Homo sapiens: one gene and its partners. The protein of the gene in region 3 purifies or fractionates together with the protein of the main gene of each other region. This does not show direct contact. Each region holds a gene or a part of one and is shown on either strand. Other genes may lie near its edges.

What was found.
Region 1: the proteins of KCNIP1 (region 3) and GALNT7 purify together in Homo sapiens (affinity purification with mass spectrometry; one large-scale study listed by BioGRID and IntAct). This does not show direct contact.
Region 2: the proteins of KCNIP1 (region 3) and APMAP purify together in Homo sapiens (affinity purification with mass spectrometry; one large-scale study listed by BioGRID and IntAct). This does not show direct contact.

Annotation. Positions count from the first base shown.
Region 1 is NC_000004.12:173,171,710-173,175,366, reverse strand, and holds part of GALNT7 (N-acetylgalactosaminyltransferase 7), read right to left. Parts: intron 1-3,657. UniProt on the Homo sapiens protein: Glycopeptide transferase involved in O-linked oligosaccharide biosynthesis, which catalyzes the transfer of an N-acetyl-D-galactosamine residue to an already glycosylated peptide.
Region 2 is NC_000020.11:24,972,145-24,975,801, forward strand, and holds part of APMAP (adipocyte plasma membrane-associated protein), read right to left. Parts: intron 1,594-3,657; coding exon 1,501-1,593; intron 1-1,500. UniProt on the Homo sapiens protein: Exhibits strong arylesterase activity with beta-naphthyl acetate and phenyl acetate. May play a role in adipocyte differentiation.
Region 3 is NC_000005.10:170,734,070-170,737,283, forward strand, and holds the end of KCNIP1 (A-type potassium channel modulatory protein KCNIP1), read left to right. Parts: intron 1-1,689; coding exon 1,690-1,737; 3' UTR 1,738-2,563; downstream 2,564-3,214. UniProt on the Homo sapiens protein: Regulatory subunit of Kv4/D (Shal)-type voltage-gated rapidly inactivating A-type potassium channels. Regulates channel density, inactivation kinetics and rate of recovery from inactivation in a calcium-dependent and isoform-specific manner.

The DNA of each region.
Region 1 (3,657 bases), on a different chromosome or scaffold from region 3:
CTATAAAGTTGGGATTCCATCGGACTTGCAATAGAGGGTGGTTGTTACAAATAAACAACCAAATACATGTAGAATATGTATTAGGCCCAAAGTAAGGATTCAATATATGTAAACTATTATTGTTGCTGTTATTACTGAAATCTTTAATTTAGTTACTTTTCAGATTGTACATTCATTCTTCAGGAATGAGAATCGAAATTCAAAATATGAACAAAGACAATTATCTAGTTAGGAGCTGAATAATCACAGTCATTTTCCTTCATTCAATAGCTACTCAAATCTTGCTGACCAACTTTTTTAATAACTCAAGTTAGAATTTCCACATATTCTGTTTACAGATGGCTCAAGCTCAGAATTTTGCTTTTCATTCGTGAATTATTTTCTCTCTTCCTCTTTCTCCAATTTACTATTGTCTAACAGTTTATACAGGAACCCAAATCGTATCTCACACGTTATCTCCCATCCCATGCAACCAGCCTAAGTCACAAAATAGACTGCTGTTCAAAAGTTTTCATTCTCTCTTTACTAGTAACTGTGCATTCCCCAAAGGCCATTTTAAGCCTTCTCCACCTACTGGTTTGACTACTGATGAAACATATCCTTGTGACAGTTCTTGTATTATTTCTTTACATTGCTACTGGATTAAGCAATAGCTCTCCCCACCCCCAACTAGATTGTGAGAGCAGGAACTCCCACTTCAGGTGTTATCAGTATTCTTCATGAGGTCTTAGGGAGGGGAGGATGGGGATGGGGGAGGGGCAAGCAGGTGGTAACAGGGCTGATGCCTGACCTCACATAGACCACTGGATGGAAAACTTTTCCACAGAAGTGATAAATACAACAATTCTTAGGAATTCGCCAAACATTTCCGAAATGTTCAGACCTATGTGGGAGACATAAATGGATGTACCTTAGTTTCTTTGAAAAATATTTAATATGTGCCTTCCATAAAATTAGCACCAGGAAAGATGGAGGAAATACTCAACAAACAGGAAACATGAACCCTGCCTTCAAAGGGCACATGGTCAGTGGCTGGAAGCCTTGTTTGGTTTAGAGGACACTTTAGGAAACATGAAAGCTTCTGATTATCAACCTAGAAAAAAATGTAGATGTATGCAAAAGTTCTGCATTAATTTCAGGAAGTCTATAAACCCCAGACTTCTCAGACTTGGTGATGTGATATTTTTAATCATTATTATGTGTGGGGGGAGAAGGGGGATGGGACACTGAAAACAGCAAAGGAAACAAAAACCAATCCTAAGGTGTATAGCCTGGGAAACTGAGAGAACAGTGACCACTTAAGACACTACACTTTCACTAAGTGATAGCTCCATCCCTAATAGTATAAACAGAGCTTCCATTTGAAGTACAATCTCATGTTCAAGGGCAGAATTTTTCAGGTTACAACTGATCATCACTGAGATAAAATGGCTTTGGTAAGGTGGAACTTGACTGCCAGGGTAATCAGTTCAGCCACTAATCCTCATTTAAGCTATATTCCTTTCAAACCTGTTAGCTTGCCTATCACATAAAACCTCTTGGCCTACTAGTTCCTGAATTAGTCCTATTATATACACCCTGAACCTAAGTGGCATTAATGACTTGACTAAAGTTGCATTTGCATATCCAGAGAGTCATTAGTTTACACACAGCTTCTCACCAGTACTGAATGTTTTAATGCAGGGGTCCCCAACCCTGGGTCATGGAGCATAAACCCTATTGTGAACTGCATGCAAGGGATCCGGGTTGCACACTCCTTATGAGAATCTAATACCTAATGATCTGAGGCGGAACAGTTTCATCCCCAAACCATCCCCCACCCAACCCAACTCCCCCAGTCTGTGGAATAATTGTCTTTGACAAAACCAGTCCCTGGTGCTAAAAAGGTGGGGGACTGCTGTTTTAATGGATCTGTCAACATTTCCTTTAAAAACCTTTATTTTCAGAGGCTTATGGGTCAACTGTAGACAGTCACTCAGGGCTAAAACCTGGGATAAATGGTGTTAGTCTGGGACATAATTTATTTAATTAAAGGAACTTTCTGTGCTTTGCAAGTCCAAGCAGATAATCTTAATAAATGCTGACCTTAAAATATCCAGAGGGCAAAGACTAAAAAAAAAAAAGCTTCCCATAATCATAAAATACAATACAAGAAGGTATACATTTTGCTTTGAGAACTTTCCATAATGAAACAAATAATCTATCATCCTAGGCCTCCTGACACCTTCACTACCATATCCAATAGCCAAATCCTGATGCCTTTGCATCTTTAGGAGCTCTTGAATCAATTTATTTTTTTCTATCTCTACCACCGCCCTGCCAATCTAAGCAAGGATTATGTCCCACCTGAATAATGATGACCCCCACCAGGACTCCTGCTACCTGTTCTATAGACAAATACATACTTTCTGTAGGCAGCCAGAGTGATCTTTTCAAAACACAAATCCACTCTTCCCTACTTAAAATCTTTCAACGGCTTCTCACCGCACTTAAGATCTCCTCCTTAGCATGGACTACGAGACCCATGCTTTCCTGTGTGGCATCATTCTACTTGTCATTCTCCACGTTCCAACAATATTTATCTCCTAGTTTCTCACTATTTCACTCATGCTACCTCCTGCCTCAGGACCTTTGCCCAAATGCTCCTTCTCAAGAATGCTGCCACCCACTTCCAGATTAACTACTTTTCTTGAAATGTTCAGATTTCGCCTCAAAAGTCAGAGTAGGCAGCTAGGCAGACATGAGCAGGGCAGGAAAGGCCCCCCACCACCAGGAATGTCAGGCGGCCATCAGGTGATGGTCAGGCCGTTGTTAAACTGTCTCTCTGAAATAATAATTGGTCGCGCCAACACCATGGAAAGGCAGTCTCCCATTAGATAGAAAACACCTAAAGCTGGTTATCAGCAGGTTCCCACTAAGATCTCAGGAGTTGGGCAAGTGGGCTCCAGCATGTGCACTAATAGGCAAAATGGCAGCTTTTAACTAGTATATGCCCTTCCTCTAGGAAGGCTCAAATTGTAAGGGAAAAATGCCTCAAGTGAGCATGAGTAAAACTTCAGTAAACACACTGCAGGCAGCCCCTCCCCGCTGCTGGCAGGCCACTGCGCATGCAGACAGCCCACCCCAAGGGAAGAATCACGGGAGAAGAAACGCAAACCCTGGAATCATGCCAATGTATAAAACCCCAAGTCCAGGGTCAGACGAGGTACTTGGATTTCTCAAGTAGCCCACATGGCCTTCTTCAAAGTGTACTTCCTTCCGTTCCTGCTCTAAAGCTTTTTAATACTCTCACTCCTGCTCAAAAATTTGCCTCGGTCTCTCACTCTGCCTTATGCCCCTCCAATAAATTCTTTCCCACAGGAGGTAAGAATCGAGTTGCTTCAGACCTGTGTGGATTTGCTACTGCTAATAGTCATTTCTTCAAGTAAGGCTTTTATGACCAAATTCCTCCATTTTCTTGCCCCCTATGGTTTTCACTATGAAAGCAGTAGCACAATTTTTATTTATATATTTATCGAGGTTTGATTGCTGTGTGGTTTTTACAAGATCCATGAGATTAAGGACAAGGAGTATTTCCTTAACAACTAGTACCATGCCTGGTATATAATTGGCACTCAAAAATGTTCAAATAAATCAATATTTAAAATCACACAACAG
Region 2 (3,657 bases), on a different chromosome or scaffold from region 3:
GCAAGGTGTTCACTGTGGGGTGCTCACTGCAGGTGCTTATTGCAGGGTGTTCACTGTGAGGTACTCACTGCAGGTGCTTACTGCAGGGTGTTCAAGTGGAGTGCTCACTGCAGGTGCTTATTGCAGGGTGTTATTGCAGGGTGTTCACTGTGGGGTGCTCACCACAGGGGCTTATTGCAAGATGTTCACTGTGGGGTGCTCACTGCAGGTGCTTATTGCAGGGTGTTCACTGTGAGGTACTCACTGCAGGTGCTTACTGCAGGGTGTTCAAGTGGAGTGCTCACTGCAGGCGCTTATTGCAGGGTGTTATTGCAGGGTGGTCACTGTGGGGTGCTCACCGCAGGGGCTTACTGCAGGGAGTTCACTGTGGGGTGTTCACTGCAGATGCTTATTGCAAGGTGTTCACTGTGGGGTCCTCACTGAAGGTGCTCACTACAGGTGCTTATTGCAGGGTGTTCACTGTGGGGTGCTCACTACAGGTGCTTATTGCAGGGTGCTCACTACAGGTGCTTTTGTGGGTCATTAACTGTAGGGTGCTCATTGCAAGTACCACTGCAGGTGTTCACTATAGGTGCTCACTGTAGGTGCTTACTGCAGGGTGTTCACTGTGGGGTGCTCACTGCAGGTGCTTACTGTAGGGTGCTCACCATGGGTGATCACTCCAGGTGCTATTGTAGGTGCTGACCATGGGTGCTCACTGCAAATGCTTATTGCAGGGTGTTCACTGTGGGATGCTCACTGCAGGGTGCTTACTGCCAAAATGGCACGGAAAAAGGCAGGTTAAAGAACTGATGTAGGGTATAATTCCATCATACGTGTGGGTGTGCATGTCCATGAACAAAAAGATGTCTGAAAAGTGAACCACTAAAATGTTCATAACAATTACATCTGAAAAGACTCAGGTGATTTTTATTTTCTCCTTTGTACCTTTGTGTTGTTTGTGTTTATGAAAATACATCACTTTAATAAAAACATTCCAGCTATTAAAAAATGATAACTATTAAGTCTATAGACTATCAGTTTTAAACAGTGAGTCTTCTACTCTAGTTTTCCAAAATTTGAATGACTTAAGGGTATTCTCACTTACAGGGCTGAAATTCCTGAGACCAAGGCAGAATAACACTTACACATCCAAGTAATGACAAGGCCACCTACTTTTCCACAGCAGCACTGTGATAACACCTATTAGCCTCTGAAGTACCGCAAAGGTAAACGGGGACCCCAATAAAATGGTGAGGGGCGAGGCCCATGCAGTACCAAGCAGGGGCCACAGCCACTACCCAGCTGCAAAATGGGGACTGTAGGTGACCATCAGGCACCGTGAGGCCCAAGGACCACCCGGCAAATGAAGAGCTCGTAGTGACGTCATGTTCCATCTACTAGATGGTCAGAGGTTCTTTTTCTCCCACAGGCATTCTAGGGAAAAGCAGTTCCACACAACGATCCAACATCTTTCTGAAAGACTGGAAGAGACACATCGAGGGATTATCACCAACTTACTGCAAGGGCCCGAACCAAACCGGGCAATGGTCTCTATTTCACCATTTTCAAGTTTTACGACCCGGCCATCTGCTGTCCCAGTAAACATCACATCTGTTTAAAAACACAAAAAGGAGGAAGAGCAATGTTAGCCTAAGAAATGTGACTAAGCCGCCTTCTCCTACAAGAGGGCTTGTTTACATGTTCCCCCTGCCCTATAGAGGAAATGCCAATTCTCAAGATGGAAGAGAAGCAATTTCTGGGAATATGAAAAATCCTTAAAACTTACAGTGATAAAACTGCGGGGGCCTAGGGAAGCAGCCTGTGGGCATGAACCTGACTCAAAAGCAAGGGTGCAGCAGATACCAGTCAGTGATGAGAACTGTGAGGATTTTCTCCAGTCCTGAAGCACTCAAGCTGACACTCAGCACTTAGGGGCATGAGTTCATATTCACCTCACATCAGTGTCTGCTGCTGATATTGATTATATCCAACTAAAGGAGAAGAACTGCCAGAAATCCTTTAGAAGAAAATTACAGCACATTAAGTGCTTACTTCAGCAGCACATATACTAAAATTAGAATGATACAGAGAAGACTACTAGCATGCCCCTTGAGCAATGATGATACACAAATTCATAAAACATTCCATAGTTTTCAAATGTATATTGCAAACTCAAGGGTAACCACTACAAAAAGTAAAAAAAAGAAGTATAACTGATATGCTAAGAAAGGAGAGAAAATGGAATCATATAAAATACTCAGTTTAAAACTACAAAAGACAAAAAGAGAGTAGAATGCAAAAATAGAAACAAAGAATAAGGGCAAAGAATAGAAAACAGTAACAAATACGGTAGATATTAATCCAATATATCAATAATCACTTTAAACATAAATGGTCTAAATATACCAACTGAAAGAGAGACATTGCCAGAATTATTCAAAAAACAAGACCCAACTCTATGTTGTGTACAAGAAACCCACTTTAAATATAAAGACATATATAGATTAAAAGTGAAGGGATGAAGAAAGTACATCATGTTAACACTAACCAAAAGCAACCCAGAATAGCTGTATTAAATTCAGACAGAGAACACTTCAGACCAAGGAAAGTTATCAGGGATAAAGAGGAGCATCACACAATGACAAAGGGGTCAATGCCTCAAAAAAACATAAGAACCTTTAATGTGTATATGCTTCACAATAGAGCACCAATATGTGAGGCAAAAACTGATGAAACTGCAAGGAGAAACAGAATCCACTATCACAGTTAGAGACTTCAACAATCTAAACAAGAATAATCACATGATCATATCAACAGATACAGAAAAAAACATCTAGTAACATCCAACACCCATTCATGATTAAAAACTCTCAGCAAGCTGGGAGTAGAGGGGAAACTTTCTTAACTTGATCAAGAATATCTATAAAAAAATCTACATATAACATCATACTTATGGATGACAAACTAGAAGCTTTCCTGCTAAGATCAAGAACAAGGCAAAGATGCCCCTATCACCACTCCTTTTCAGTATCATACTTGAAGACCTAGCTAATGCAGTAAGACATGAAAAGGAAACAAAAGGTATACAGATTGAGAAGAAAGAAATAAAACTTTCTTTGTTTGCAAGTGACATAATTGTCTAGATAGAAAATCTGAAAGAATCAACAACAACAAAAAACCCTCCTGGAACCAAGCAATTATAGCATGGTTGCAGGATATTGCAAGATATTGACTCACCTTCCTTTATACTAACAATGAACAAATGGAATTTGGAATTGAAAACACAATACTATGTACATTAGCATCCAAAAGATTGGCATACTTAGGTATAAATATAATATAATATACACGAGGTCTATATGAGGAAAACTAGAATATTCTGATGAAAGAAATCAAAGAACTAAATAAATGGAGAGATATTCCATGTTCATGGACAGGAATACTCAATATTGTCAAGATGTCAGTTTTTCCCAACCTTAATCTATAGATTCAATGCAATCCCAATCAAAATCCCAGCAAGTTATTTTGTAGATACAGACAAATGAATCCTAAAGTTCATATGGAGAGGGCGAAGACTCAAAATATCCAATACAATATTGAAGGAAAAGAATAAAGTCAGAGGACTGAAACTACTCAACTTCAAGATTCTCTATAAAGCTACAGTAATCAAGACAA
Region 3 (3,214 bases):
ACCTGCAGTTGGTCTTGGCTAAGCACAAGACTGAACAGAGAGCCTAAGTAGGGGTCTGGGGGCATGTGAAAACTCAGAGGGGGTCTCTGTGAAAATAGACTTCCCGAGAGGGCAACACCATTATTTTTTAGCCTGCCTCTGGCTTGATGACCCATTTCCCAGACTACAAGGAAGCAGCTGGGGGGAAAAAAACCTACAATTGTGTGATTCTCAAACCACAGTGTGCATAAAAATTGCCTGGAATGATTCTGAAAATGCATATTTCCAGGCCTCAATCCCAGAGACTCTAGATCTGGGTCACTTTAACACAAATGTCCTGGACCAATGCTTCTAACACTTTAATGTGTGAAACAATATCCTTGATGATTTTGTTAAAATGCAGATTCTAATTCCATAGGTCTGGGGTAGGGCCTGAGATGTTACTTTTCTCACATTCTCCCCAGTCACACTGGTGATGCTGATCCTGGGAACACAACTTTCATTAAGTCTAACCAATAGACCAGCCCCAGAGTCCACCAGAGACTGAACTGGAAATAATTGCTTCATCTACTTTTGAGAAATCCATTTGTACCCCCACATTATTTTAGAAATGTTCAGAGTTACTCTGAGCTCCAGCCAAGAAGAATAGCAAATGTAAGAAAGCCGGGGAGAAGTTCCTAGCAGATACTGAGCCCCCATCAAGTTTCAAGCACATACATAAACATCACAGCCACCCTGTTATGTAGATGTCCTATGTGCAGGGTGATATCCAAGATATTTAACAACTAGAATGGAATGAACACTGACCCCCTTGGGGGTGAGTTCTCACTGTTAATTCCCTTGAGAGCTGGTTGTAAAACAGCCTGGCACCTTCCCCACCTCCAACCTTGATTCCTCTCCCACCATGGGATCTCTGCACACCCAGCTTCCCTTCACATTCCACTGTGAGTGGAAGCAGCCTGAAACCCTCACCAGATGCAGATGCCCAGCTGAACTTTCCAGCTGCCAGAATAATGAGCCAAATAAGCCTATACTGACATTAACCTTTTCATTTCTGATATTGATAATTTGAAAAGCAGTCTTAATAAGCATTTATCTACTTTATTGATTTTTTTGAAAGAGAGCGCTTTGGGGGGTTTTCTTACTGTATGTCTCTATTGCATGTTCTGTATTTTACATTTTTCTATTATTTCTTCTCTGAGGTATAGTATTGAATGTAGAAAAATCCTCAAATGTTCGGTATTAAGCAATACACTTCTAATTCATGGTTCAGAGAAGAAAATATCTCGAATAAAAATAAAATAAAAATATGACTTATCAAAATTTGTAGGATCTAAAGCAGTATTCCAGGAATGCAAGGTTGGTTTAACATTCAATAATTGGTCAGTGTAATTAATCACATTAATAGAATAAAAAGAGAAAAAATATAATCATTTCAGTGGATGTAATTGTTCAGAGCTTCTTAAAAGAAGCAACTCACTATTTTACTAGATGATTTGTTTCTTCTGAATTCCTCTTTAAGGCTACAGGTGGTGCTTCTTACTTTGAACTGATCACTTTCTAGGTCCCCACCCTTACTTCTTGTTTTTCATACCCTTGTAGAGTTTTCTCCATATAGGAAACCCATGCTTGACATTTGCTCACCAGAGTTACAGAGCTCTCAGGGAGGAGACTCAGAGTTCTAACCCTCTTGCCCTCCTTTTTTCCCAGGACGACAACATCATGAGGTCTCTCCAGCTGTTTCAAAATGTCATGTAACTGGTGACACTCAGCCATTCAGCTCTCAGAGACATTGTACTAAACAACCACCTTAACACCCTGATCTGCCCTTGTTCTGATTTTACACACCAACTCTTGGGACAGAAACACCTTTTACACTTTGGAAGAATTCTCTGCTGAAGACTTTCTATGGAACCCAGCATCATGTGGCTCAGTCTCTGATTGCCAACTCTTCCTCTTTCTTCTTCTTGAGAGAGACAAGATGAAATTTGAGTTTGTTTTGGAAGCATGCTCATCTCCTCACACTGCTGCCCTATGGAAGGTCCCTCTGCTTAAGCTTAAACAGTAGTGCACAAAATATGCTGCTTACGTGCCCCCAGCCCACTGCCTCCAAGTCAGGCAGACCTTGGTGAATCTGGAAGCAAGAGGACCTGAGCCAGATGCACACCATCTCTGATGGCCTCCCAAACCAATGTGCCTGTTTCTCTTCCTTTGGTGGGAAGAATGAGAGTTATCCAGAACAATTAGGATCTGTCATGACCAGATTGGGAGAGCCAGCACCTAACATATGTGGGATAGGACTGAATTATTAAGCATGATATTGTCTGATGACCCAAACTGCCCATGTCATTTGTTTCCAGAAACGAGGACCAATAATTCTCTCACACTGGCATTTGTGCTGGTAGTACAAGTCCTTTAATATGTCCAGGAAGGGAGCCATTGCCCAGTGGTCCATATCTCCACCACATCCCCTGCTTGAGCCCAGCGCTGCATGTCCCTCCCAAGAAGTCCAGAATGCCTGCAAATTGCTGTAATTTTATACCATGTTCTAACCAATAAACAGAACTATTTCTTACACTCTCAATCACTTCTTCATGACTCCGTTAGGTAAGAGAGGTAAGCTGTGAAAAGGGAAGGCTAGTCCATTCATTTGACACCCAATTATTAGTGCAGTTGTCCCTCCATATGTGTGAAGGATCAGTCCCAGGACTCTCCATACCAAAATCTGCAGATACTCAAGTCCCACAGCTAGCCCTGAGGGACTCGTGTTTTCAGAAAATTTGGCCTCCATATATGCAGGTTTCACATCCTATAAATACTGCATTTTCTATCACTTTTGGTTGAAAACAATCTGCATGTAAGTGGACCCAATAAGTTTAAACTCATGTTGTTGGAGGGTCAACTGTACTTACGTTGTGCCAGGCCTGTGCCAGGCAATGACTTCATCCTCCCCAGCCCCCAAGCCTTCCCCAGCAAACATCCAATCCAAATGCAAATACTGTGACCAAATGCAAATGCAACTTCGAGACAAGACCCTTCACAACACTTTGCTTCCAACAAGATTGCCACTTCTAAGACCCTCTGATATGGAAAGCCTGGAGCCCCTGTGGTGTGAGTGGGAGTGCAGAGATAAAGAGGATGACGGGGCCTCCTGCTGAGAGATTTTAGGCTCTAGAGGACCATCAAGCGGCTTCAGCCTATAACCAGCAAATGATTACTCATGTTGAACACTGTG